Regions from separate parts of the Homo sapiens genome. Here all the other regions are linked to region 3. The links come from fine-mapping of genetic effects on gene expression. A gene starts in region 3. Each other region holds a variant in brackets. All regions are shown on one strand. Distances are from middle to middle. Region 1 overlaps EEIG2 (EEIG family member 2). Region 2 has its middle 23 kb from the start of EEIG2. Region 3 holds the start of EEIG2 (EEIG family member 2).

What was found.
Region 1: its variant is fine-mapped to the expression of EEIG2 in whole blood (TOPMed, PIP above 0.99). The same link has a PIP of 0.9 or more in cerebellar hemisphere, cerebellum and transverse colon.
Region 2: its variant is fine-mapped to the expression of EEIG2 in lymphoblastoid cells (GTEx, PIP above 0.99).

What each region holds. Positions count from the first base shown.
Region 1 is chr1:108,630,741-108,637,651 of GRCh38, reverse strand. It overlaps EEIG2 (EEIG family member 2), which reads right to left. Exons shown (of 11, transcript NM_001010883.3): 11 at 1-2,544. The coding sequence ends at 2,502. Among named protein-coding and RNA genes, the nearest start is that of HENMT1, 27 kb to the left of the region's middle. The variant C/T (reference allele first, on the strand shown) is at 2,472.
Region 2 is chr1:108,531,842-108,543,321 of GRCh38, reverse strand. No RefSeq gene overlaps it. Among named protein-coding and RNA genes, the nearest start is that of EEIG2, 23 kb to the left of the region's middle. RefSeq lists an enhancer at 6,161-6,455 and a cis regulatory region at 9,122-9,697. The variant A/C (reference allele first, on the strand shown) is at 4,976.
Region 3 is chr1:108,555,278-108,566,757 of GRCh38, reverse strand. EEIG2 (EEIG family member 2) reads right to left here and starts at 6,658. Exons shown (of 11, transcript NM_001010883.3): 1 at 6,193-6,658. The coding sequence starts at 6,329. RefSeq lists enhancers at 5,455-5,504, 5,968-6,067 and a silencer at 6,458-6,997.

The DNA.
Region 1 (6,911 bases), 73 kb before region 3:
GAAAAAGTATTGTATACATCTGCAAATTCTTCAACACTGGGTGATTTGAAATTTGACTTTAATATTTAAAAATAAATTTATTAATAATCTAAATTTTCAAGTCAAATTTTCTAAACTCAAAACATAAACAGAAGTGAACTTGTTATTTAATAAACAGATTTTTTCAACAGCTATATGGTTAAGATGTTCTTAACCATGCTCTCAGAAAAGGACAATCAGAAAGTAAGGCAGACACTTAGGCAACCCTTAGCGAGTATTTTGAAAGGACTGCACTGAAATTTGAACACAAAGTGTGCCAATGGAACACAAAATAGAAAATGGATCCAGACTTTTGCTGACTACAGAAGACATAGACATTAGTTCTTTTTTCTTCCTTATCAGTGTTTCTATTTATTAAAATATTTGTTATATTTACTACTACATAAATCAAGGTGTATCTGATGGCTGCTAAGATTATAAAGGCATGATTTTTATGCTTTTCAAAATCTCTCTACTTTTTAAAAAGAATTCTGTACCATTTAAAATACTGAGAACCAGTCTTGTATAGAGAGGTGTCGGACCAAGGGCAGCCAAGGATGAGTAAGATGGGCATCACCCTGATTGCAGCACCTCTTACGTGTCTGATGAATGTCCTCACTGAACCCCACTTACAATCTAGTTTTATCATTTTCAAAACTGCAAAATCATTTGCACAGCACCAATAAAAATATAGCCTAGAAATAATATTTTGAAAATAGAAAAATATGTTTTTAAAAAATGTCATAATAAATATCTCTCTAAATAATATCTTCATATCTCTATAAAAAACTTTCTTTGATTTTTCCCATAATATATAATGAACGGATCAGTTCACATGAAGACATAATGCAAGTCTTTACCACTTAAGTCCCTTGGTTAGGCTAAAATGTTCAGGTCAATGTTTTATTCTTAAAAATAAATCTTAAAAAATAAAAAGTATAACTCAGAACATTCTCTCTCTCAGAGTCTCTCTACATTCAAAATATAAAACAGGGTATCATTTTTTAAAAACTTCCAGAATCTCTTTGTTGGAATAGTATTGGATTAATGCAGAATACTCAATCCTTGAAATATAAAAAACAGCAACATAAGTTCTAATATTAACTATTCAAAATTTTCCAAACCTTTAAATTTGGATATTAAAATAATATAATTTCCTCCTTATTTTTGCCAACGTGAAAACACCTAGACCAAAGTCATTCTATTCTGACATATTGTCTTTCTTGGATATGACTTTGAAAGTAAGAATTGGGGAATTACTGGTTATACAGATTCTACATTTTTCTTCACTAATAGTGATTCCAAGAAAGTTTAGATCTTTCCACATGGAAACCGTCATGTAAGAACAGAAAAACTCTAAGGTTTATCTGCTGTGCTGCTCAACTGGATCCAGACCAGGTATTCTTATTTTAAAAGCTATATTTGATAGATGTTATATTCTACTCTTGCTTCAAAACAAATCACTTTCGACACAGTGGGGAAGAAAACAGTACCTACAGAGAGCTAAAATGGAAACCTAGTAGTCTGCATCAGTCATGGCAAGCAGCTGTCATGCTGCTACCCACCACCACTTCGGAAAACTGTTAGCCTCAGATAAGTCTGAATTTACATAGAAAAGGCTTCTCTGTTTCTGACCATATTACAATTCTCCTCTTTTTCTACATTTTGACTCCTGAAACCAGCAGATCTTAATATTCAATGAGTTAAGATAGCTCTTCTGTTAGGGTGCCCAACACAGTAAGTGTTAAACTTATTTTGAGTCTTTTATGTAGTGCTTGGGGGTGGTTCTGCAGCTCATCTAATATTAATGACAATTAACAATATATACTGCATAACGGCATTACATCCATTCACGTATCTCTGACTTAAATGCACTTGTTATTTCATTTATGACTGATACACTGAGAATTATGAATAAGCACATCACATGTTTAAATTGTAGTCTAACATTTTCCCAAAGCATGAACACCCACACTTTATACAATGCTGTAGGTAGTGTAATAGGGAAGATTTCCAGAACAGGAATTACAACTATCTTGACAAAATCTATAGGGTTTAAGTTATATTCATGTACTGTCTCTCAAACTAAAAAAACCAAACCATAGAGCCCAAATCTATTGAGCCTCTTGATCACAGATTTTTACACTTGAATCCTAAAATGATACTCCGATGTATATAATGCTGTTTTCTCCGCTGGGGTGTTCTGAAAGAAAAAGCAGGCTTTTCATTATGATGTGCAGTGACCACAGAAGCCAGGTGCTTCCAAGGCACACAGTGGCACAGTGCCTGGAGACTGCCATGTAGATGTTCCCCTTTGGTGGCTGGTACAGGATGGCGGTGGGTCCTTCCAGAGAAGAAACCAGCATTGGCTTTCCTCTTGATAGTTGAGGTTCATTTTCTATTAAGTGCTTGAATAAAATGCCTTGATACATCAACTACTCACATCTTAAATC[C/T]ACAAGGAAATGTTTTCACCGACTTGACTTCTAGCGTTTGATCACAACTTGTTCATAAGCTCCAGACCCCACCCTAAAACAGCAGTGGAAAAAAACTTCAAAATTTTGAGCTGCAGTGTTTGAAACTGTTCCAAGTAACCTTACCCCTGGAGAGATGGGGCACTGGGTATTTTTCTACTAGATTTGATTTCCATAACGTTTAAAGGCATCACGGATAGAAACTATGTGAAATATTAAATGTTTATCATTAATACATTGGATTAGCCTAGATCCTGATTCTCTCACACTTATTCCCACAATAATCTATTAGAATTCCCCAATTCTTGACCTATCGACAAATGGTGGCAAGAAATGCTCTTCAAACATGTTTATCTATTCATTCTAAAATAGGTCTCATCCAAGAGCATATGTTGACTCTGGCAGTGCATCAGGACTTGCACTGAGTTAATGATGATGGTCTTCAGCTGTCATAATATTGTGGCGTTTTCATGGCAGGGTCTCATTCTGTTGCCCAGATGGAAGTGCAGTGGCATGACTGAAGCTCACTGCAACCAGAACTCCTGGGCTCAAGCAATCCTCCTAACTCAGCCTTCCAAAGTGCTGGATTACAGGCATGAGCCACCACGCCTGGCCCATTACTGCCTGAAGTTATCACCAGGTACCCATTTCCCAATTTGTCAAGATGTTAGGGTATACCCTACTACTTGTCATTTTACCATGAGTGTGCCTGAGTTTAGTAAGCCCAGAAGCAACCACCATGACTAGTGTCTCTCCTTAATGGCATTTTAAGAGGAAATTCTAAACAACAGAAGTAAGGTAGTGATTACTAGCCCACCATGGACTTGGCTGGACTTCTCAGTTGATTGCCCAGAAACTCCTGTTCTCACAGATTCATTCTACAGAAGAAATAGGAACTTCCTCAACAGAATGCCAGTGAGCACCCATTCATCCTACAGAAAATCAGAATTTGAAGAAACCATGGTGGGCAGCATGGCACACTGGCTTTTAGATGCCCTTTTAAATATGTTCTGCCTCTGGCCATGATGAAGTAACAGGAACCAGATTTTCCCTCCTGCCTTATATAATTAGAAAACCGGATAGAATAAGTGAAATGACAGTTTGCACATACTAGACAACAGGCAGTGCAGGACTGTGGTCCCAAGAAACAAGAAATAAATGAAGAGAGCCCGACAACCGCCCCAGCTAGCTGCCTGAAGCAGTTTCCTTCAGGATCTTCCGAGCCTGCAGTGCAGAGAGGAAGACCCCAAACACAGCCTGCTGGTCTCTCTGAGTGAAGGAGTCAGAGATCAAAGCTCAGAGGGGCTAGGGACTAGAATTTGTAGATCAGAATAACAGAAGGAGGGGTTGGGGAAAATAATGGCTGGAGAATTCCAGATTTGATGAAAACTGTAAACCCATAGATCCAAAAAGCTTGATGAACCCCAGGCAGAATAAACACAAGGAAAAACATATTCAAGGCACATCATAGCCAAAGTGCTAAAAACCAGTAATAAACAGAAAATCTTAAAAGCAGCCAGATATAAAAGACAAATCACATACAGAAGAATAAAATAAAAATACAGGCAGACTTCTTGTCAGAAAAAATTTAACGTCCCTAAAGGAAAGCAGGCAGGTGCATGCCGGTCCCAGTAAGAAAACCCAAGTGGGCCAGGCTGTATCCTGGGCAACACAGCAAGACCTTGTGTCCACAAAAAGTTAAAAAAGAAAAGCTGGGCATGGTGGCTCACACCTGTAGTCCTAGCTACTCAGGGGCTGAGGCAGGAGGTTCGCTTGAGTGCAGGAATTGGAGGCTGCAGTGAGCTGTGATCACATCACTGCGCCCCAGCCTGGGCAACAGAGTGAGACCTTGTCTTTCAAAAATGAAAACCAAAAAATGTTACATAAGTCATCTAATTTAGTCTTACATCCTATGAGTTCAGGATCTTATTTATCACTCTCATTTTATAGGCAAAGAAACTGAGACTTACAGAGGTCAACAGTATCAATCAATAGTGGAAGAGCTAGGACTTGATCCCAGGCAGTCTAAGACAGCCCGTGCTTTTGACCATTTACTATTTAAATGCCTTTTGGTTGAAGGCTTGGCACAACGGCTCATGCCTGTAATCTCAGCACTTTGAGAGGCTGGAGTGGGAGGATCACTTGAGGCCAGGAGTTTGAGACCAGCCTGGGCAACACAGTGAGACTCTGTCTCTATAAAAAAAAAAAAAAAAAAATGCTGGGCATGGTGGTGCATGCCTGTAGTCCTAGTTACTCAGCAGGCTGAGCCCGGGGTTGAAGGCTGCAGTGAGCTGAGATTGTGCCGCACTCCAGCCTGGGTGACAGGGTGAGACCCTATCTCTTAGAAAAAAAAATTCCATTTGGTTGGAACTACCTTTTCTGCTGTTCTGTACCTAAATTAATAAAGCCAGGGCTTACTGAGTATATTATGTCATTTACCCTTTAAAATTACTCCATGAGATAGGCATGGTTATTCCTACTTTTCAGCAGAGGTAACTAAAGTTCTATTGAAGTTAAGTGATTTACTCAGGCCCCAAAAGTGGTCTGGCTAGGATGTGAACCCAAGTCTCTAACTCAAAAACACATGTTCACTCCATCATTCATACCACTGTCCTCATAAATGTTACTTTTCTACCTAGTTCCCCCTGCTACTGGTCTTTCCTTGCTCTAATCTACCCTTCAAATTATGGCCGGTTATTTTTCTAAAATGCCAATCTGATAGGTCACTTCCCTGCAAAGATGGCCAATGGCTCCCCACTGTGCACATGAGAAGAAGAAACTTTGTTATGGCAAGTGAGGCCCTTTACAACCTAGCTCAGAGATGCTTGCCAACCTCATGCCCCTAAATACCCTTTCACAACCCCCTCTCCTCAGAAGAACCTGAACTATGTTATATTATTAATGAGCCAGTAAAATATACTGGTTAAGTACAATGGGATTTGGACTCAAAGAGACATGAGTTTTAATCTTGGTTTTACCACTTACTAGTTTTAAGGCCTTGGGCAAATTACTTCTTCTTCTTCTTCTTTTTTTTTTTTTTTTTTTTTTTTTGAGACAGTCTCATTCTGTCGCCCAGGCTGGAGTGCAGTGGTGCAATCTTGGCTCACCGCAGCCTCCACCTCCTGGGTTCAAGTGATTCTCCTGCCTCAGCCTCCCAAGTAGCTGGGATTACAGGCGCCCGCCACCACACCCGGCTAATTTTTTTATTTTTAGTACAGATGGGAGTTTGCCATGTTGGCCAGGCTGGTCTTGAACTCCTGATCTCAAGTGATCCACCTGCCTCGGCCTCCCAAAGTGCTGGGATTACAGGTGTGAGCCACCATGTCCAGCCTCAAATTACTTCTTTGTATCTTTGTTTCCATTAAAAAAACACCAAACTAATTGTAGTATGTTGTGAGCACTGAAAGATACTACTACATAAGAATTGAATAAAAAATATATATGTACCTGTGCCTGGCACATAACTAATAAATGCTCAATGCTACCTATAATTGCTATATGTTTATTATGATATAATTATATATCATAATTACTGTACTTATAAACTCATTCTATTTGTTACCAGGAGTATTTGTATTCATCATATTCACCTTATAAGCCCCCCACTTATTTTTTATTCTCCCAAAGTCTCTCTTCAAGTGTGAACTCTGAGATCCTGTTTCTGTTCTCTCAAACTTCCCTCTATTACAGTATTTATTATAATGTTATGACTTTTAGTTTGTCCATCTCATCTGTAAAAAAGAGTCAGTAAATATTTTAGGCTTTGTGGGCCACAGAGTCTCTGCTGCACCACTCAGCTCTGCTACTGTAGCATCAAAGCAGCAGTAAACACTATACAAATAAACAGGCATGGTTGTGTTCCAATGAAACTTTATAAATACAGGTAGTGGGCCAATTTGGCCTATGGGCTATAGCCTGCCAGCCCCATGTGCTAGACCATAAGCCAGCAGAGGGTAAGAGCTGGGTCTTTTCTACTTGCATCCTTACCTACAAATTGGCCCAAGAAACAGTTACTGAATTTAATAAGCAGATGAGTCAATCAAAGATCTAAATAGTGTTACATCTTCTGTAAATCCTTTTTCACATTACTCCCTGAAAGTAGCTTTATATGTCTCTCTCTTACCTACTTATGATATCTGATTGTAGTTAATCGTTGATGTAGGTTTTTGCTGTTAGTCTATTTTTGAGCCTTGTAATGTGCTGGACAAATAGGAGGTACTCATTAAAATGAGTATTAGTAAAAGAAATGAATGCAAAATTCTTTTAGGTTTTGACCACGAGAGAATACAATAACTGTCTTGGTCCAAGGAGCTACCCACCTGCAACTGTGACTCACTCTGTAGTTGTGCAGGGACTCTACATAAATACGACATGGAATGGAATTAGGGGTGCACAGAAGTGTGGGGAGCAGGTTGTTAAGGA
Region 2 (11,480 bases), 23 kb after region 3:
TTTACTCTTTTTTCTCTAAACTTTTCTTCTTGCCTTATTTCATTAATTTGATCTTCAATCACTGATACCCTTTCTTCCACTTGATCGAATCGGCTACTGAAGCTTGTGCATGAGTCACGTAGTTCTTGTGCCATGGTTTTCAGCTCCATCAGGTAATTTAAGGTCTTCTCAACACTGTTTATTCTACTTAGCCATTCATCTAACCTCTTTTTCAAGGTTTTTAGCTTCCTTGCAATGGGTTTGAACATCCTTCTTTAGCTCAGAGAAGTTTGTTATTACCAACCTTCTGCAGCCTACTTCTGTCAACTTGTCATAGTCATTCTCTGTCCAGCTTTGTTCTGTTGCTGGGTAGGAGCTGCAATCCTTTGGAGGAGAAGAGACACTCTGGTTTTCAGAATTTTCAGCTTTTCTGCTCTGGTTTCTCCCTATTTTTGTGGGTTTATCTACCTTTGGTCTTTGATATTGGTGACCTGCAGATGGGGTTTTGGTGTGGATGTCCTTTTTGTTGATGTTGATGCTATTCCTTTCTTGTTTGTTAGTTTTCCTTCTAGCAGTCAGATCCCTTAGCTGCAGGTCTGTTGGAGTTTGCTGGAGGTCCACTCCAGACCCTGTTTGTCTGGGTATCACCAGCGGGGACTACAGAACAACAAATATTGCAGAACAGCAAATATTGCTGCCTGATTCTTCGTCTGGAAGCTTCATCCCAGAGGGGCACCCACCTTTATGAGGTGTCAGTCAGCCCCTACTGGGAGGTATCTCCCAGTTAGACTACACTAGGGTCAGGGACCCACTTGAGGAGGCAGTCTGTCCGTTCTCAGAGCTCATATGCCATGCTGGGAGAACCATTGCTCTCTTCAGAGTTGTCAGACAGGGATGTTTAAGTCTGCAGAAGTTTCTGCTGCCTTTTGTTCAGCTATGCCCTGCCCCCAGAGGTGGAGTCAACAGAGGTAGTAGGCCTTGCTGAGCTGTGGTGGGCTCTGTAAATGGCTATATTTTGTTTGTTAGGTTGTTTGAGGGACAGGAGGGCCAAATCTTAAGGTATGTTGAGACACCCAGTATCATTTTCTTTCTTTGGCATGCTTCAAAATACTAAGAAAAGATGGGAGGTTGCTATGTGGGAACAGGAAGACTGCTACATACTTGGCAAGTAAGTTTGGCTGAAGAAGATTGTAGCAGAATCTCACCCTGATGGTTTTAATCCGTCAGGATGCAAGCAAAGCAAGAAAGCAAATGAACAGACAAACCAACACAACAACAAAATGCCAGAACAATAATTGTGGATGATAAAAAGAGGAAAAATTCCCCTCAGTGACGTGTAGGAAATGAAGCTGAGATAAATGCAGAAACAACTTACTTAAAAGCAAGTGTTATCAAAATTATTCAGGTTTGGCTTCAATTTTTGGCTTTACTTTTAGTGCAGAAGTGATTTCTTAACATGTAGCTTAGCTAATCAAGCACCTTCATTTGTGGAACCCTGTTTTCAGGCTAAGTATATTGGTCTTGCCCTAATATGATAAGCCTGGGCTATAGCATGAATCATGTTGCTGCCTTCAAGATAGAAGTTGTTAGTAAGAGAGGGATATAATGGTTATGTGGAATAGAGGGGGCAAGGGCAGGAGGAAAGGGCTCCATCTGTCTTTGCCGATTATGGTGACGTTAAGTATTGAAGAGTTCAGATGTCTTTTAATTTACCCTGTAGGTGTATTCCTGAAAAGTTGTATATAAACTGATTTATTTTGGTTGTTAATCAAATCTGAATGACTACCTCATATTTTCATAATTATTTTTATTTCATAGTGATTTGTAATTGGAAGCGATTTTTAATACTTTCATTCTAAGTTTCTCTGCTACTTCTTACCTCTCATGCAGTTAAGGCCTGCTTTGTAAATCCCAATACATATTTATTGTTTATGACTTTAAAAATTCCTTTAATGTGAAAAATGGCCCTTTCCTCTATTTTCTTAATTTAAACACTGAAAATCTGGAATTCTGTAATAATAATAATGTCAGCAAACATTTATTGAGTACCTACTATGTATTATACTATGCATTGTTCTAGTCTAAGAACTTCATTATTCATTTATTTAAGCCTTGCACTCTTATGAAACAGATGACATTATTCCTCCATTATACAGATGAAAAAACTGAGGCACAGGGAGATCAGGCATCTCTCTCAAGTTTACCCAGTCAATAAATGACAGAATGCTTGTATGTCAGGGTTTCCTAAATGTGGCTCATAACTGTGATTGAGTCAAACTTGGAAGGTTTTATGGTCACTTGTTTATAATCTATCGGGGAACCTGCCCCAATAGTCACATAGGTTCTTTTCTATTTTCCTTAAGAATTGGCCAGCTTGAGAAATAAAGGGACAGAGTACAAAAGAGAGAAATTTTAAAGCTGGGCGTCTGGGGGAGACATCACATGTCGGTAGGTTCCGTGATGCCCCAAAAGCCACAAAACCAGCAAGTTTTTATTAGGGATTTTCAAAAGGAGAGGGAGTGTGTGAATAGGTGTGGGTCACAGACAACAAATACTTTACAAGGTAATAGAATATCACAAGGCAAGTGGAGGCAGGGCGAGATCACAGGACCACAGGACCGGGGCGAAATTAAAATTGCTAATGAAGTTTTGGGCACCATTGTCATTGATAACATCTTATCAGGAGATAGGGTTTTGAGAGCAACCGGTCTGACCAAAATTATTAGGCGGGAATTTCCTCTTCCTAATAAGCCTGGGAGCACTATGGGAGACTGGGGTCTATTTCACCCCTACAGTCTACAGACCATAAAAGACGACCACACCTGGGGGGCCGTTTATAGGCCTATACCCCTAGGCGCGTATTCTCTTTCCCAGGGATGTTCCTTGCTGAGAAAAAGAATTCAGCGATATTTCTCCCATTTGCTTTTGAAAGAAGAGAAATATGGCTCTGTTCCGCCCGGCTCACCAGCGGTCAGAGTTTAAGGTTATCTCTCTTATTCCCTGAACAATTGCTGTTATCCTGTTCTTTTTTCAAGGTGCCCAGATTTCATATTGTTGAAACACACATGCTGTACAATTTGTGTAGTTAATGCAATTATTACAGGGTCCTGAGGCGACATACATTCTTCTCAGCTGACAGGATTAAGAGATTAAAGTAAAGACAGGCATAGGAAATCACAAGGGTATTGACTGGGGAAGTGATAAATGTCCATGAAATCTTTACAATTTGTGTTTAGAGATTGCAGTAAAGAGAGGCATAAGAAATTATAAAAGTATTAATTTGGGGAACTAATAAATGTCCATGAAATCTTCACAATCCACATTCTTCTGCCATGGCTTCAGCCAGTCCCTCAGTTTGGGGTCCCTGACTTCCCACAACAATAATCCATTAATCAATTTGTTTATTTAACAAATACGTATTGAGTTCCCACTCATTGGTAATGACTCTTCTATGCACTGAAGAAACAGCAATGGACAAGGCAAACAAAATTCCTGCATTCATGAAGCTTCCATTCTGGCAAGTGAGCAAATACGTAATATCAAATAGTAATAACTTCAAAGAAAAAAATAAAATAGAGTAAGAGTATGGGCAGGGACAGTGGGAGGATGCAAGGTGCTATTTTTGATAGATTGGACAAGCCTTCTTAAGGATGTCTGAATGAAGTGCAGGACAAAGCCATAAGTAGATGGTAGAACCGAGTTCCAAGCAGGGGAATAGCAAATACAAAGGCCCTGAGGCAGGAATGAGCTTGCTTCTTTCAAGGAACAATAAGAAGATTTGAGAAGCGTGTGCATTGGAAAGTGTGGTAGAAAATGAAGTCAGAGCAGCCAAGAAGGAGGAGGCCATGAAAAAATGTTTGAATTTTTTTGAGTGTATCAGAAAGCTGTACAAAGGTTTCAAACAGGGAAGTGGCATTATCTGATTTGAATTTTGAAAAGTTCATGCACCCTAGATGTTGTGTGAAGAACTCATTATATGGACATCAGCTATCACTGGATGAGATATGATGGTGGCTTAGATTCATCTGCTCACATGTGGAAGACTGTGGGAGGAGGTTTTTGGAGAGAAGTAAAGAGTTCTGTTGTGTACATGTTAAACTTGAGAAATTTTTAGACAGCCAAGTAGAGACTTTGAGGAGGCAGTTGAATATAGAAATCCAGAACTTCACTGGAATTAATAGCTCTGGAGATAAAAATGTGGAAGTTGTCAATGGCTAGATGTATGAAAAGGCTGGGACCAAATGTGATCATCTGGAGGTGAATATAAATAGAAAAAAGAGCCCACTATTCCTATCAAACTACTAACTTCATTTTTCACAGAAATAGAAAAGACTATTCTAAAATTTGTATGGAACCAAAAAAGCTCACATAGCCAAAGCATCCTAAGCAAAAAGAACAAAGTCAGAGACATCACATTACCTGACTTCAAACTGTACTGCAAGGCTATGGTAACCAAAAAAAGCATGATGCTGGTACAAAAATAGAAAATCACCAATGGAAGGAACAGAATAGAGAACCCAAAAATAAAGCCACACATCTACCGCTAGTAAGCAGTGGGAAAAGGACTCTATTCAATAAATGGTGTCTGGATAACTGGCTGTCCATATGCAGAAGAGTGAATCTGGACCCCTATCTCTTACCATATACAAAGATTAACTCAAGATGGATTAAAGACTTAAATGTAAGACCTGAAACTATAACAGAAGAAAGCCTAGGAAATATCCTTCTCAACATCAGCCTTGGCAAAGAATTTATGACTAAGTCCTCAAAAGCAATTGCAATAAAAGCTAAAATTGACAAGTGGGACCTAATTAAACTGAGGAGCTTCTGAATAGCAAGAGAAACTATCAATGGAGTAAATAGATGACCTAGAGAATGGCAGGAAATATTTGCAAGCTATGTATCTGACAAAAGTCTAATATGCAGAATCTATAAGGAACTTAAATCAACAAGCAAAAAACAAATAACCCTATTAAAAATGGGCAAAGGACATGAA[A/C]AGACACTTCTTAAAAAAAGATATACAAGCAGCCAACGAACATGAAAAAATGCTCATCACTAATCATCAGAGAAATGCAAATCAAATCCACAATGAGATACCATCTCACACTTGTCAGAATGGGTTTTGTTAAAATGCCAAAAAATAACAGATGTTGGTGGGGCTGTGGAGAAAAGGAAATGCTTACACATTGTTGCTGGGAATGCAAATTTGTTCAGCCTCTGGGGAGAGCAGTTTGGAGATTTCTCAAAGAAATAAGAATTGAACTACTATTCAACCAAGCAATGACATTACTGAGTTTATACCCAAAGGAAAATAAATCATTCTACTAAAAAGACACATGCACCTGTATGTTCATTGCAGCACTATTCACAATAGCAAAGACATGGACCCCGCCCAGGTGCCCATCAACAGTGGATTGGATAAAGAAAATGTGGTATTAATGCTTATATACCATGGATTACTGTACAGCCATAAAAAAGAATGAAACCATGTTCTTTGCAGCAACATGGATGCAGCTGAAGTAATGAAGAAACAGAAAATCAAATAACACATGTTCTCACTTATAAGTGGGAGCTAAACATGGGGTACACATGGACATAAGGAGGAGAACAATAGACACTTGGAAATACAAGAGTGGGAAGGAAGGGGGGCAAAGGTTGAAAAAATACCTATTGGGTTCTATGCTCACTTCCTGGGTGGTGGGTTTAATCATACTCCAAACCCCAGCATCATGCAATATGCCTTTCTAACAAACCTGCATGTGTACCCTGGAATCTAAAATAAAAATTGAAAAACAAAAGAAAGAAAAGAGAGCCCAGGATGCAATGAAATATATTTAATATTCTGTGAATATTCTTCTTCTTCTTCTTCCCATCACAAATAATAGCCATTGATGATCATTGTCTAGATTCATGAATTCATTAGGGTTTAATATAGTGGTAATCTAATTCTGTCATTCTTTCTTCAATTTACTTGCTGGAATACTTCTATAAGAGAAAATTCAATGACTTAACCTAATAAAAATTTGTTTTTTGCTCAAGCAATAGTCCAGTGAGGCTGCTGCTGATATCTTGACTATACTGGACTCTCTCCTCTAAGCACTAACTCAGATCACTTTCCTCTTGTGATTGTATGCTTTTCTGGGTCTTTGAAATCTTCTCTATTAAGGCGGTGAATGGAAAAAAAGAATAGGGGATCAGATGTGGCAAGATTTTACAGGCCAGGCCTGGAAGTGTGTTCTTTTTCTACCTACATTCCATTGACTACAACAGTCATATGGCTGTACCTAACTGCAAGGGAGGCTGGGATATGTAGTTCAACTGTATGTCCAGTAGGAAAACAGAAATAATTTAGTAAATCATTAACCAGTTTCTGGCCATATGGCCATAAACTTGAAAATACACAATCACGCTCTCTCCCTCCTCTCCCTCCTCTCCCTCCTCTCCCTCTCCCTCTCCCTCTCCCTCTCCCTCTCCCGTCTCCCTCCTCTCCCTCCTCTCCCTCCTCTCCCTCCTCTCCCTCCTCTCCCTCTCTTTCCACGGTCTCCCTCTGATGCAGAGCTGAAGCTGGACTGTACTGCTGCCATCTCCGCTCACTGCAACCCCCCTGCCTGGTTCTCCTGCCTCAGCCTGCCGAGTGCCTGCGACTGCAGGCGCGCGCCACCACGCCTGACTGGTTTTCGTATTTTTTTGGTGGAGACGGGGTTTCGCTGTGTTGGCCGGGCTGGTCTCCAGCTCCTAACCACAAGTGATCCGCCAGCCTCGGCTTCCCGAGGTGCCAGGATTGCAGACAGAGTGTCGTTCACTCAGTGCTCAATGGTGCCCAGGCTGGAGTGCAGTGGCGTGATCTTGGCTCACTACAACCTCCACCTCCCAGCCGCCTGCCTTGGCCTCCCAAAGTGCCGAGATTGCAGCCTCTGCCCGGCCGCCACCCTATCTGGGAAGTGAGGAGCGTCTCTGCCTGGCCACCATCCCATCTAGGAAGTGAGGAGCGTCTCTGCCTGGCCGCCCATCGTCTGAGATGTGGGGAGCGCCTCTGCCCTGCTGCCCCGTCTGGGATGTGAGGAGCGTCTCTGCCAGGCCGCCCCGTCTGAGAAGTGAGGAGCCCCTCCGCCCGGCAGCCACCCCGTCTGGGAAGTGAGGAGCGTCTCCGCCTGGCAGCCACCCTGTCCGGGAGGGAGGTGGGGGTCAGCCCCCGCCCGGCCAGCCGCCCCGTCAGGGAGAGAGGTGGGGGGGTCAGCCACCCGCCCGGCCAGCCGCCCCGTCCGGGAGGTGAGGGGTGCTTCTGCCCGGCCGCCCCTACTGGGAAGTGAGGAGCCCCTCTGCCCGGCTGCCACCCCGGCTGGGAGGTGTACCCAACAGCTCATTGAGAACGGGCCAGGATGACAATGGCGGTTTTGTAGAATAGAAAGGGGGGAAAAGTGGGGAAAAGATTGAGAAATTGGATGGTTGTCGTGTCTGTGTAGAAAGAGGTAGACATGGGAGACTTTTCCTTTTGTGCTGTACTAAGAAAAATTCTTCTTCCTTGGGATCCTGTTGATCTGTGACCTTGCCCCCAACCCTGTGCTCTCTGAAACATGTGCTGTGTCCACTCAGGGTTAAATGGATTAAGGGCGGTGCAAGATGTGCTTTGTTAAACAGATGCTTGAAGGCAGCATGCTCGTTAAAAGTCATCACCACTCCCTAATCTCAAGTACCCAGGGACACAAACACTGCGGAAGGCCGCAGGGTCCTCTGCCTAGGAAAACCAGAGACCTCTGTTCACATGTTTATCTGCTGACCTTCCCTCCACTATTGTCCTGTGACCCTGCCAAATCCCCCTCTGCGAGAAACACCCAAGAATGATCAATTAAAAAAAAAAAAAGAAAAAAAAAAAGAAAATACACAATCACACATTTACAATTTGTGGTAAATGCTGTAAAGTTAAATAATATATATGAATGAGAATAGTTGGCTGGGGGCAGAGAGCTATAATACTTCAGGAAAATCCTTTGCTATGAGATAATATTTAAGCTGAGACCTAACAAATGAGGACAAGAGTGGTAGGAGGAAGAATCTCCTAGGCATGTATGAAGGTCCTGAGGTAGGAAAGAGCTTAGAGAATCCAAGGACCTGCAAGAAGACCAATGCAGCTGAACCTGAAAAGAGAGTTATGAAACAAGGCTAGACAGGTAGGCAAGGCCCATATCATGCAGTGCTCCATAGAATGTGGTAAAGAGTTAGCGTTTAATCGCAATAGCAGTGGAAGGACATAGTATGATTAGTGTTTTTTAGTATTTAATGCTAATAGCGATGGAAAGGCATGATGTGGTATTTCTAACAGAGTGTTAAAATGGGACTCTTCCTGATTCACTGCAGCTGAGGGCCTAATTACCCCCACATTTCAAAGTGCAGTGAGTGAGATCATCTATGGCAGAATTATGAAAGAGGTGCTGAAACCACTTCTGTGGATCTTCACCCCTCTGCCTATCTTAAGGCTATATAGGAACTAAAATTGAAAAGGCCAAGGAGATAGTTGAGTTTTGGAAATTCCCATTGAAAGAATCTCCAATGCATCATGTCTTCCCTACAACCCCATGAGAGATTGGTAGGACAGGTATTTTTACCTTGCCTCAGGTGTGCTAGTGAGGGGTGCTCCAAGGAGACCACATGGAAGGTTTGACCTGTAGCCTCTGGAGTCCATGGGTCACAGAAATACCTGGTAAATAGCTTACTGTCATCAAAGTAAGGAACTGCATTTGGAAAGTTAACTAGTATTGACAGTTTGCATTGGCAGCTCCAAGGTATGAAATCCTTGGGAGGAATATATACGTGCGGTCATTTAAAAGGGGATCATGCTTAAGAGAACTTCTGTCCACACCAGACAACCTTAGCAGACAGAGGCTGGAGACGTGTCTTCAGATTCAGAAGCTGAACGTGGGGCTGGAGTGGGTATGTAAGCATCCAGCTAAGGTCGAGGCTTTGCCTATTTCAATGAGCTCCAATCAGCGGAACTTACAGAGGACTATCTAGGGTGAGGAGATCGAGACCATCCTGGCTAACACGGTGAAACCCCGTCTCTACTAAAAAATACAAAAAAATTAGCCGGGCGTGGTGACGGGCGCCTGTAGTCCCAGCTACTCGGGAGGCTGAGGCAGGAGAATGGCGTGAACCCAGGAGGCGGAGCTTGCGGTGAGCTGATGCGCCACCGCACTCCAGCCTGGGCGACAAAGCGAGACTCCGTTTCAAAAAAAAAAAAAAAAAAAAAAAAAGTCCTGAGAGTAAGAGTCAGCTTTAAACACCTGCCACGGCCAGAGTCTGTCAATGGTAGATTACGCCTGTGTCTGTCACACAAGATCTTTTCTGTTTCTTATCTCTCTTTCCTGGCCCCTCCAACCTTGGCTGGCTGAAGCGGCTGAGACAATGAAGAGGAGGAGGCCAGGAGAGAGGAGCCAGCCCCACCACAAAGGCCGCCAGCCCTAGCAGGTTTGGGGTTTGGGTGGGTGGTGGGGAGGAAGCATTAACTGTAATGAAATTCAGTGTTTCAACCAACACGCTGAACTGGGCATTTTTATTATTGAAATGAGACCATTTTGCGACTGAAAGAGAGAATTCGTATTAACTGACAGCACCAAAAAAAAGTCAAGGGACTTGCCCCAGGCGCCAGGAAAGAACCTGTCCTGCAGAGCCGGTTTGATCAGGCTGTTGGGAAGAAAAGAATAAAGTTGTTTTCTGTTCTCACTTCAAGGTTTCTGGTTCTGTATAAAAGTTACTTGTTTAAACAATCACACTGGTTGCTGTGTGGAAATCAGACCGGAGGATGGCAGGTGTGAGTGCAAAGGGTCAGTGAGGAGGGGACAGCTGGCTCCTCCACTTCCTAGCTGTGTGATATTGGGAAAGTCAGTTAACTTCTCTGTGCATCAGTTTCTTCATCTTCAAGTGGTGCTAGAATGCTTTATAGGGTTATTGAGAAGAATAAATCAGCTAATGCATTTAAAGCACTTAGAGGGGTACCTGACCCATAGTAAGGATTATAAGGTGTTTGCTACTATTTTTATTTAAAAAATTCTGATTGTAGCAGCCCCAATGTAAGACAGTGTTGACTTGGACTACCTTTAACCAGAGAGCGTGAAAAAGCTCATGATGTATTTTAGAATGATATTCAACAGGGCTTTGTGGGGGATGATTGGATATGGAGACTGAGGCAGAGGGAGAGGACAAGAATCGCTCCCAGGGTTCTGGTTTGGACATCTGGTTGGAATTGAGATGACTGAGTTTGAGCAGGACAAGAATGGTATACAAGCTTAATAGAGATTCCTGGTTACTGATGCTTCAAAAAGTATGCATTTTATTTTATTTTTTAGAGACAGGGTCTCACTGTTGTCTGGGCTGGAGTGCAGTGATGCAATCATAGTTCACTGCAGCCTTGAGCTCTTTGGCTCAAGTGATCCTGCCACTTCAGCCTCTAGAGTAGCTGCGACTACCGGTGTGTGCACATGTCCGGCTAATTTTTGCATTTTTTTAATTGTAGAGATGGGTTCTCACTATGTTGCCCAGGCTGGTCTTGAACTTCTGGCCTCAAGCCATCCTCCTGCCTTGGCCTCCCAAAGTGTTGGAATTACGGGCATGAGCCACTGTGCCTGGCCAGAAAACTGTGATTTAATAGCATTGAAAGCTCTGAGCATCACGGGAGTGATTTTTCTGAAGTGTAAAGGCTCTAAAACAAAGTACTTGTTTTGCTAGGTCACCTTCCGATCCTTTGTCCCACTCTTTTAGATAATGGTGCAGGGGGAGTCTGGGTAATTATATAATAATATGGTTTTCGTTTTGAGAACCAAGAATGACCTCAACAGGCAATCAGTCCTTGCATAATAAACACTGTTAGAAAATAAATGGCATAATATTAACAGTTCTAAAACTAAAGTTACTGTCTTTGACAGATGTCTTCTAAAATTGTTATATGTCTAATAAACTTAGTAAAAAATATATTTATCCAGTGGGGACTGCAATATAGTGACAGGCCTTTTTTTTCAAAAGCACACACATAAATGCATGGATAAAATTTTAGTGCTTATGTTTTAAATACCTTGAATGGCTTGTCACCTTACCTTTGCTATTGGAAGTTGATCTTTGAAACTAAGGTAACAGCCTGATTCCCATCCTAAAGATATGCTGTGGAGATATAGAAACACTGTCCTTTGGTATTAATTTTCTATTTTCTTCCCTACCCTCCTGGGATACAGTGTTGAGAATCAAAATTTCTCTTTCTCCTGAGGTCTTGCCAAAAGCTGTCTTTATTACCCCCTCCTGCCTTGCTAGGGGTTGTGGAAGAGCATTTATGTTAGATGCTAGGGCTGACCAATGAACAAGTGGCTGAGGGCCTTTTTTATTCTCAGTCTTTAAATTTTGTAGAAACTATAAAAGTGACTCGAGTAACTCTTTGTAGACTTGCATATCCCCTCATCAGAACTTTCCTTTTAGTTGTCTTTCTTGACAGCACTCCACTAGGAGAGGCTGGGTCCTTC
Region 3 (11,480 bases):
ACAAAAGTCCTCCAGGTTCATCCATGTTGTCACAAATGACAGGATTTCCTTTTTTTTTTTTAAAAGGCCGAATAATTTCCATTGTATATACCACATCTTCTTTATCCATTCATCTGTTTACAGACACTTAGGTTGTTTCAATAACTTGGCTATTGTAAATAATGCTGCAAAGACAATAAGAGTACAGAATTCTCTTCAACATACTGATTTCAATTCCTTCGAATGTATACCCAGAAGTGGGGTTGCTGGATCTAGTGTATAAATAATTCTGTGCCATATGGTCAGACAGTACTTTCTACTACTAGTAACTTTTGATAATTTGCTGCTTATTAGTGATTACTAATCTTAAAAAATCAATTTAATGCACTGAAGGGCAAGTTGGTAATATATATCAAAACCCTTAAAAATCTGCATGCCCTGTGACTCTATAATTCCATTTCTAAGTGTTAATCCTAAATAAATAATAATGGATGTATACCAAGCTTGGTTATAAGGATGTTTATTGTAGTTTATTTATAAAACTATTAACAAAAAAGAAAGGAAAGGAGAAAGCCTTTCAAAAGTGACTTGGTTCAATAAGTCATGGAAACTCATACAATAGAATAATATGCACCATTAAAATAATCTTGTAATTGAATATTTAATGATATGAAAAGATACATGAAGTAAAAAACCATACTAAGTATAGTATAATCTCATTTTGGCTTAAAAAGGGTATGTGATAGTTGTGTGGGGGAGTGTGGTCATACATGTATGTGTACAGATCAATAAAGGCTCCTAATTTCTATACTAAAATATTTATAATAGTGATTATCCCTGGGTGGTTCATTTATGGGCAATTTTTGTTCCTTTCTTTCTGCCTTTCTATTTTCTAAGTTGTCCATATGAATCTGTATTACTTTTTCAATAAAGAAATGTTTACTAAAAAGAAATACACAATGTGCAGTGAACTAAAATCTTGAAAACAGAAGGATGTACTCTGGCCAAAAGAAAGAAATCCTTTCCGCTTGTTTAGAGTAAAAGGTCCAATACATAGATGTGCTCATCAGCTTCCCAGACACTCCCCAAATTCACATGTGTTTCTGCCACAGCCTCATGTGAAACTTAGAAAACTATTTGGCTATCAGCACAAAAAAAAAGATGAACAAAATAAGGCAAACTAGGGAATTCTAAAAGATATAGAAAAAATTTCTTCCTATTATTCCTTTGTTTAAGTAGGCCAGAATTAAACCTGCCATGCCAGTTTTAATAAACCTTAAAAGTGATTTAAATGCTTTTGCAAAGGAAGTACGGTGAAAAGATTTAAATACAATAATACTGTCCTTTTGAAACATCTTCAGAAATACAGTCATGTACTGCATGAGGACATTTTGGTCAACAACAGACCAAATACACGATGTGGTCAGAGCAACAGGCTATACGACATAGTCTAAGCACGTAGTAGGCTATACCATCTAGGTTTGTGTAAGTACACTCTATGACTTTTGCACAATGATGAAATCGCCTAAGGATGCACTCCTCAGAACAGATCCTCATTGTTAACTGATACATGACTGTATTTTATTAGACAACAATTTAGCCTCAGTTGAATAGACCACCATAATCGTACAATGTATTTTCCAAATATTTTATTAACTATGGCATGTAAAAATCTGACAATTTACCCTGACCATTTTAATAATATTTATTACAAATAATTACCTTTTAGTCTTTATATTTTTCCAATCTCTTCATTGAAAACAATACCAAGAAAAACTGGCTTCTAAAATTAATTTTCACTAATAATCTTTATTTTTATTTATTTATTTTTGAGACAGAGTCTTACTCTGTTGCCCAGGCTGGAGTGCAGTGGTGGTGATCTCAGCTCACTGCAACCTCTGCCTCCCGGGTTCAAGCGATCCTCCTACCTCAGCCTCCTGAGTAGCTGGCATTACAGGTGCCCACCACCACATCTAGCTAATTTTTTGGTATGTTTTTTGTAGAAATGGGGTTTTGCCATGTTGCCCAGGCTGGTCTCAAACTCCTGAGCTCAACCAATCCGCGTGTCTCGGCCTCCCAAAGTGCTGGGATTTACAGGCATGAGCCACTATGCCTGGCCTTTTTTCACTAATAATCTTTAAAAGGGTAAAAACAATGTAAGGAAATTCTAAATAAGTTTAGTAAGCAGGCCTATATGGCTCCAATAGACAACATCTAAGAAATCCACATACCGCATAAATGCCTCCCACTACTCATCAGGCTGTCACCTCAAATGTAGCATGCTAAGCATACAACTTAACCCACTATATCTTCCACCACCATATGCAATATTCCCCTTAAACAAAACAAATAATTTTCCTGACTTCTTTACTTCTGTGGTGGCGTCAAGGCATCTGTCATAAGATTATCATTTATCAGTCACTTACATGAGACACCTCGGAGTTCAGGTTCTCATTAGCTCCTGCCTGGGTTATTTTAATAGCCTCCTAATTTGTCTCCCCATCTCTAATTTCCCCCCCACCCAACCTTGAATACAGATAGCATCAGCCTGTCAGCCAGGTGATACGCCACTTTAACCACACAACAACTCAGTTCAAGAATCTTAGGTTTAATTTTACCCTATGAGCAGTAGAAAGCAACTCTCATTTATAGAAAGAGAGTAGAAAGAAACTCTTTACAACAGTATTCAAAGTCTTTCTCTAATCTTATCTTCTGCTTCCATTCAACATGAACGCTCTGCAATCAGGCTGATCTATTATCAACTCCTATTGATGACTTGCTCAAGCTGTCCTCCCATCCTCACTTTGTCAATGCAAACTCATCCTCCCAGAGTGCTCCACAGAAATGCCAATGTGGTTGTCAGTAACCATTACAGTTGTAAATTAACTCTTTTGCTTTAGAATTTCAACAACACTCAATATATTGTCTGATCCATTGATTGGGCACTAAGTCACACTGTCTTCTACTGTCAAGCAATTATACATCTATGATCTAATTTCATTAGAAGTAATTCCCTTGTGGATCCTTATATTTGTTGTACTTCTCACAATCCCAGATGGAGAGCTATTAATAGAAACCTGGTAAATGCTCAACTAATACTTGGCCAAGAATAAATGATCTGCATGTTTAGTTGTTGTACAAAGCCAAATATATTAATATATATATCAAATACATATGACCTATATATATTTGGGTCTCTCTATTTATATCTATATATGCAATTTTCTGTGTGCCTCTAAGGCTTTTCTGTAGCAAGATGAGTATTATTTTATAAAGGTTCATCCATCAGGGAGTCTCCAAGACCAATCCTAAGTTTGGTGATTCATTAGGACTCACAGGACTCAGCATACAGTCCTACTCATGGCTAAGGTTTATTACAATGAAAAGATACAAAGTCGAATCAGCACACACTTAACTTCTCTAGAATTAAATTGTGATGTGCTGTCTACCAGGGAAACTCATTAGAGACTCAATGCCCAAAATTTGTATTAGGGCTGGTCACGTAGGCTGCCTAGCAAGAACCAAAATTCCAGATGGAATTTAGCATAAACCACTCCGTACAGTCTAGGCACAGTGAGCCACTCTTATCATTTACGTAAAGTTTTGTATCATGTATGGAACCATTTACCATTCAAGCTCCCAGATGCCAGCCAAGGGCCAGCCTTGTACATAGGCCTTTCTAAGAATAGCAGTCTTGGGCCTGCTATATTACCTCTTTTCTATGTAATTCATTTCATATTTTTACAGGAGAAATGTTACAGTGTTAACTACACCTGACTTTTAAGGGGCACATACAGCAATTTTTTAGAAGTTAAAATCTAGCGTTCAATTAGAGATGCACTGCCTTGACTGGCACCCACTAATTAAAAGTTCTGTGATTTTGAAATAATTCACTTCCTTTAGATATTTCAGATTTTCTTTTTTTTTTTTCTTGTAAAATGAGGTCTCTTTCTCAAACCAACAATTTTGTAGTTGTTAGGATAAAGGAATCAAATATAACATCTCAAGCAAATGGACCTTCTTGGACAAGTTCCTGGTCTCCTCTTTAAATGCCAACTGGGTGCTAAGGCACTGTTTAGGTGTTTTGGGCACATCATCTCACTAAATCCTCACACCACCACATGTCAGTGATGGTTTCTATTTTACATACAGAAGTTTTGGGACTCTAAGTAACCCATCCAGGTTTACCACAGTGGAACTGGGGTTTAGGCTTAGACTCACCGCATTCCAAATCCTTGCTCTTAGCTTTACACCAACTATCTCTACCTAATGTCAAAGGCACAGGCTCCTTATTGTGAGTCATTTCCCCCATACTATATGGCTTTTTGGTTTGGCTACACAGAGCACTATTCCTAATCTTACTTAAAATCAAATTGATCAAAGTCAAATTTTAATTGGAAGAAAAAGGGGTGAGTTTAACCCAAGATACTCAACTTTTTCATTTCTAAGTCTTGCGGAGTATACCCCTTGCTCATTAAAGTCATTAGGAAGCTCCCTATTCAGAAACTTTCATATATGGCACACGATTTATTCCTTTATCTGGCACCACCCTGTTTGAAGTTACACAGACCTGATCAGAATCTTGGCATCGCACTTACCAGCTGAGGGGACCTTAGGAAAGTTAGTTATGCTTTCTGAGCCTCAGTTTATTTATCTACGAAATGGAACCCCTACCTTATAGACTTGCTATGAGAATTAAATAAGATAATATATTTAGAAGCCAACACATATTTGCTGAATAAATGACTGCCTACAACGAAAGAATAAGTGACTTGTGGGAAGTAAGCCAAATAAACATAACTGAGGTAGGAAGGAAGCCCCGTAGACAAGTGCCCTGACCACCAGGTGTCACCACTGGCCCAGGAGCGCCAGTCTAACTGCCTGGCGTCGGGGGTGGCACCCTGCAGCAAAACAGTCTAGGCCTCAGGGCAAGACTGTCACCTGCACCAACAGGACCTTCACGAATCGGCTTAGGCTTTTCAACAAGTAAGAGATGGTCCAATATTTTTTTTGCACCAAAATAGGTTACATTCTTCTCTTACAGGTGTTTAAAATACTTAGCTGAATATCCACTGATGTGTCACCACAGTTTAATTTTAAAAACTGTCTTCGGCAAACTATTAATTTCATATATCCTTTGGTTTAGCCAACTAGACATTTTCTGGCTTCCATAGGCTTCAATATTGCCCCAAAGACAAGTTTCTAGCCCCAATTCCACAATCCAGTGACATTATTTCCTTTATACTATAAATGGGATGACGGAATTTTTTTTAAGTAGAATATTTTTAGGGCAGAAATAAAGCCTAAGACCAGTATATATGGGCAAAATAACATTAACTTTTAACCCTTCTTGATCTCAGGAACTCAAAAGTTCATTTAAAAAATTGTTTTCTCTCTCTATGTATATATTTTAAAGAAAGCACCTTAGGGTACATCTGTCAACCTGTGAGTAGCTCTGAAATTACTCAAGAAACACTGCCACACCTATTATTAATGCCACACCTATTATTTAATAGCTTCATTCTGTAACCTGCTAATGCCTCTCTCTGGGAGTGCCCAGGGGCTCATTTTAAAATGAGGGCAGGGCCTGGGCTCCCCATCTGGCTCTAAGCCCTCCCACAAGGAGACCTACTAGTGGCCACTTCAAGACTAATTCATCCAGCATTAGCGCCTAACTGGAGACGCCGCTCTCTGATGAGGCACAGACCGTTGTCTCGTCTGCCAGGAGCACTTGACTCAAGTCAAGCCTGGCCAGGCCTACCCCAGCCTCAGAGTGGGTGGCCAAGTCCCCTTGTAATCTACAAGGGAGAAGGAATTGTGCTAAGCACAGGTTTCTGTTCAGAGCTGGGCTCTTGGAACTCCTGCAGTTTGGGTTATTTTAGTTTTTAACAGCTCAAGTTCTACTTTGCATTTCACAAATATGGAAATGTCTTAAGAGAAAACAGAAGCATCCTCCCTCTCTGGCCATTGCTCCCATTCCTAGAGGATTTGGGAGGGAAGAGCAGATACCAGGCACCATCTGGAGTCAGGAGCGCAGGAACCAAGGCCAGCTGAGAAGAACCCATTTGCAAAGCACTTTGCAGATCAATAAATTCGACTGATTTTAGAGCGGTCCCTAGGGAAAGGCGAGCAAATGGGCCAAGGAGAGATGCTGCCCATCCAACAAGCCCTGGCCAAGCAGAAAGGGGCGAGGCGGCGCGGGAGGCGAGTTACCTGGAGGACTCGGCGGTGAAGCTGCCGCCGTCCAGCAGCCGCATCTTGCAGAAGAGGACCCCATTGACGAAGGGCACTGAGGAGAGCTCCTCGAGCTCGAAGTCCACCTTAAACTTAAACTTCTTCTTCTTCATCATCGTGAGAGCCAGGCGCCTGCAAGCTGGGCGCACGGCCGGGCGCCGCCGCCTCAGCTTGGCCGAGCCCCGGATCAGCCCAGCCCCATGGCCGGGGCCGCGAGCTGTGCGCGGGGGCGCGGCCGGGGGGCGCCGCAGGCCGGCCGCGGCCGGGGCCGCTGCCGCCGCCTCTCGCGGCAGCCTGGGCCGGAACGCGGCGGCAGCTGCGGCGCGGACCCCGACCGCCCGCGGGGAGCGGTCGTGCTGCAGCTCGCCCGGGGAGGTGAGCGCCCTTTTGGTGCTCAGCTCGCCGCCGCCGCCGCCGCCGCCTCCGCCGCCGCTGCCGCCCGTCTGGGAGTCGGGAGAGGCGAGGCTCGAGGAACCGCCGCCTCAGCGCCTCGGGGGTCGGGGGCGCCCCCAGCGGCCGCGGCCTGCAGCGCACGGCGGGGCGGAAGCCGGAGGGAGGGCGGGGACTTTGTGGGCGGGCGCGGGCTTGGCCGCGGACTCTAACCCGCGACGGCAGTTAGCACGTCACGCCTTTCTGGGGTTAAAAAAAGACAAACCCGACAGAGAAAGCTTCCTTCTACCGCTTCCTCTCCGCCTTTCTTTTCAGTTTTTGCACCGCCTCCTTTCTCCCCCACCCCCTCCAGTGGTTTCTTTCCTTTGGGTTTGAGAGCCATGGGTTAATAGAGGCAATTAAAATCTCAGCGTTGTTTTGGTCAAATTGAAATCCTAAAACTAAAATTTCCGTTAGGTACTCTAAATTCACGAGCCTTCAAATATAAAAGGAAGATAAGGTAGGAAAAAGGAAAATGATGTGCTGAGGGACTATCAAGGGCCCAGGCACCGTACTGCTGCAGGCGCTTTCTCTGGGGTATAGCTTATCTAGTTCCTGTCACCCAGGACAAAAGATAAAAGAGCAAAGAAGCAGTTAAAATAATACCCTCCCTTTAAAAATTTGTCTGTCTATACTGAGAACTGAAATGCTTAAAATCAAATTCTGCAGGCAGTCTGGCATGGCTACGCTGTAATCCCAGCTACTCGGGAGGCTGAGGAGGGAGGTTAGCCTGAGCCGGGGAAGCGGAGCTTGCAATGATCGGAGATCGCGCCACTGCACTCTAGCCTGGGCAACAGAACAAGCCCCTGTCTTAAAAACAAAACAAAATCTTCAGAGCAGGCTTAAAAAAAAATCTCCCTAGGGGAATAACAATTACCTGCCTTCTGTAATCATGCATGTATTGTTACAATGAATGTTACAAAGTTGGTTACGTGATGTTCATGTTTTTAAACTGAGTTATTGTCATTTTCACTCAGATTCTGCCACAGTAATTCTGAAAGGGTTTAATTGAAAATATTTTCTTTCTCAGTTTACTCGTTTACTCATTCATTCATATAAAAAAATTGCTTAAAATGTCAATCATCGGCTAGACCCCATAACCAAAAGCCAATAACTGCCCTCAAGAATTTTACAATCTAGTGAGGAAGACATGTTTAGACAGGTCATTAAAAAAACACAACCTAGCACCAAGCTATGTAGAACTCAGAGAAGCAATTAATTGAAGTTAATCAGTTTTCTGAATTTCAAAGGATGAAAATGATTTGGGACAAAGTGGGGTAAGTTGTTCTAGGAGAAATAAATTAAAAAAAAAAAAAGATTCAGAGGCAGGTTCGGGGGTGGGGATTTGGTAATGGATAAAGCTTCTTACCCTGCAGGACAGGGGGCAAAGACAGTGAGATGCATTTGGGGACTTTGAGATTTGTCATTTAGAGCACTGGATGAATGTTAATTTCATTGACTGAACATTGAAAGCAAGAGGAGGGCAGGTTGGGAATGGAAGAGATAATGAGTCTTTATGGGATCTGCTTGCAGTACATCTAGGGAGAGAGAGGCAGCCTTAGCTCATAAAAATGCATTGGCAATTGAAAATATACATTTGGGAATTGAGGTAATCGCTGATGGCTGAAGCCCAAAAGGTGGATAAGGATGAGTTACTCTGAAGAATATTTAAAGGGTAGGCAAAGAGGAGATCGTGAAGGTGCCTAAGAACAAGCAGTCAAGAGAAAAAGGAGATGAAGAAAGAGATGGCCTGGAAGCCCAGACGGTTTTAATCATGTAACATTCGTAGTTACAAAGTTCTATTGTGTGCCAGGCACTATGCTGGGTACTAGAGATGCAAATGAATAAGACATAGGGGCTTATAAAGGAATGGAGAAAAACAGAGATATGCAAACAGATCAACTAAAGTGTGTGTGTGTGGTATGTGAGTATGTGTGTGTGAGAGAGAGAAGAGAGAGAGAAAGAAAGAGAGAGAGCAATCTGTGATCCATGTAGGACAGAGGACCATTTCAAGAGAGTGCTGCAGAGCAGTCCCAGAGGATTTGGACTGAAAAGAAGCTACTGAATTGAAGGTCTAGGAGGTCATTGGTAATCTTGGCAAGAGAAGTCATCATAAAAGATAGTGACAAAGTAAGATGAAAAGTGACAAAGTAAGTGAAAAGATGACAGTGAAAAGTAAGATAGTGACAAAGTAATGTGGGTAAATAAAAATTATATTTTTATTGATGTTTTTCTGATTTTTTTGTCAGCGAATGAAAAGAGAGAGAGAATGGTGACCAGAGGAGGACAGTTCAATCTTTTTCAATAACATTCAGGAACTATCCAATATTTATTGAGTGTCTATTAGGTGCCAAGCACCTTAATAGGTCCTATGGATTTGAAATGCCGTCCCTGTCTTAGATCTCACGGTCTACTGGAGGACACAGAGAAGTAAGCAGGCAGTTGCAGTACAATGTAACACTGAGTGCTGTCTGTGTATGATGGTGAGTGGAGACTGCTGTGGGAGACTATAAAAGCTAACAGGGATAAGTAGTAGGTTTATGGAATGCCTTCTAGGGTAAGTGAAGCCTGAATTCAGGCCTTTAAGCTGAGGCCTGAATAATGAGCATGGGTGGGGAGCAGTTTCCAGGAAGGAGGTAGTGTCTGTGCAGAGGCTCAAAGGAAGAGAGACCATGTTGCAGAGGGAACTGAAATTAGTTCTGTCTGGCTGCAACTTAGAGTTGGGTACAGTGACAGGGGTTAACAAAGAGCCATTGAAGTTTTAAAGAAGAAGCATGATATATTCAGATTTACATTTTGTAAAGCTCTTCTACTTTATAAAATGGAAGATAGGAGACAGTCTGTTACTGTTTTTTAGACTCATGGTTTGATTATTAAACCCCTGATAGGAGTCATAGTCAAGGCAGGAAACAGATATCATATTCAATGTGTTTAAATGGGGAAAATTTAATGAAAGGACTCTTCACAGAGTTGACAGGGTAAGGGACCCACAGTCTGGTGAGAAGTTGAAAGGAAGAAGGGATAAATATCCTGATTTCTCTCACCTCCTACTTTCTGATCTCTTGGTGGTGCTTCCCATGATCCAAAACCAACCAAGGCCAGAGGGTAGAGGGGCTCGGAACATGCAGTTCATACAGGACAGACTCCTGGGGCACAAAGTAGGGCACTGAAAGGTAGAGAATGGTTGGAGGTAAGGGGATGGAAAGCCACTAGCACACAAAGGATACAGTCAGGGTTCACCATAGGAAGCTGAAACCACTCTGGATGTTTCAAAAAAAAAAAAAAAAAGGGATTTCATTCAGGCACTTCACTGCTTCTGAAATCTGTGGAAGGGCTGAAGGGGTTGAGGTCAGCAGACTGTCGAATTCAAAGTCACATGCTTTGTGGTAAACATTACTAGTGTTCACTAGTATCCGGTCCTCCTTGATTTCTGAGCATATGGGAGTTTACAGTTCCCAATTCCCTTGCGGTTAGTGGGGCCTTGTGATGAGGTCTAGCCAATAAAATGTGAGAAGTAACACGTCACTTCCAGGATGAAACAGTGAAAAGCCTTTGAGCAGTTCTCTAGACTACCTCTTCCCTGCCACAATAGTTATAGAGGAGACCTTGGGTTAAGATGTAGCAGCCACAAGATTGAAGCAGCCCAGATTTCTTAAGTCAGCACATGGAGAGCAACTGCCCACACCTGCAGGAAACATTTTGTCTGTGAGAAAGCAACTTTTATTATATGAAGCCACTGAGATTTTGGGGGATGCTTGTCACTACAGCATAAGTCTAGTTTATTCTGACTAACATACACTGCAGCTGGGATGGGAAGCTGACACTAGAACACTGCTACTGCTGCTGCCACCACCACTGGCTCACACCTGTCAAGACTATGAGGAGTCTGAATGCCACAGGCATGTCATCACACCTTGCTTGCAAGTGACACAGCAGTAAGAAGAGAGCCTCCATTTCACTTGCACCTGTGTTTTCATAAGGAAATTTATTTGGCAGGCCTTATTTGCACCCAAAAATTGAGTGGCAAAGGAGTCTGAGAAATGTAATTTTCAGCTTTCCAACTTCTTCAGATAGGATGGTGGAATGAATGTTGAGGCTAAGTATCTACTCCAGTACTTATAATTCAAGTTTCTTAAAGGCAGGGATGGTTTGCTGATCATCTTTGTATCTTTTCTAAATAGCCCAGTACCTAGTGGGTATTCAATACATGTTTCTTGAAATGACCTGAATTTATAGACCTATCCTAAGTGTGTTAACTCTCAGGTAAAACAACAGAGTGAATAGACATGTGCTAAGACTGCTTACTGCCAGAGGTGTGACAATTCTTACAGGTTTATTCAATTCCCTTGAAAAGCATTTACTACCCCTTAAAAATGCGTACACTCCCCCTTTACCTCTCCCCTACAAAAAGGATATTTAAGTCTCAACCCTCTGGTCTTTCTTTGAGTCTCATATTCGCAGGACTACTCTGTCCATGTGCACTGATAAATTTGTATGCCTTTTCTCCTGTTAATCTGTCTATTGTCAGTCATTTCAGCAAAGCTTCAGAAGGCAGAGGGGAAGCTTTCCCATCAATCTTATACCTACAATAATTTGGTAAGAAAGTAAGATATCTATGAAACCCATAGTTCTATAAGAGGTTGAAAAATGGAATGTTAGTAGGTTATATTTATGGCTGCATTCAGTAAGATATTGGAAACATAAGATGAACTCATGCAATAATTAGCAGGTTTGCAAGCATAAATTAAAAGGAATATAGAGAGTCCAGAAATTTGGAGCCTCAAGGGATGGGAAAAACTAACTGCTCTATACCTCAAAGAATAGGAAATAAGATTGAA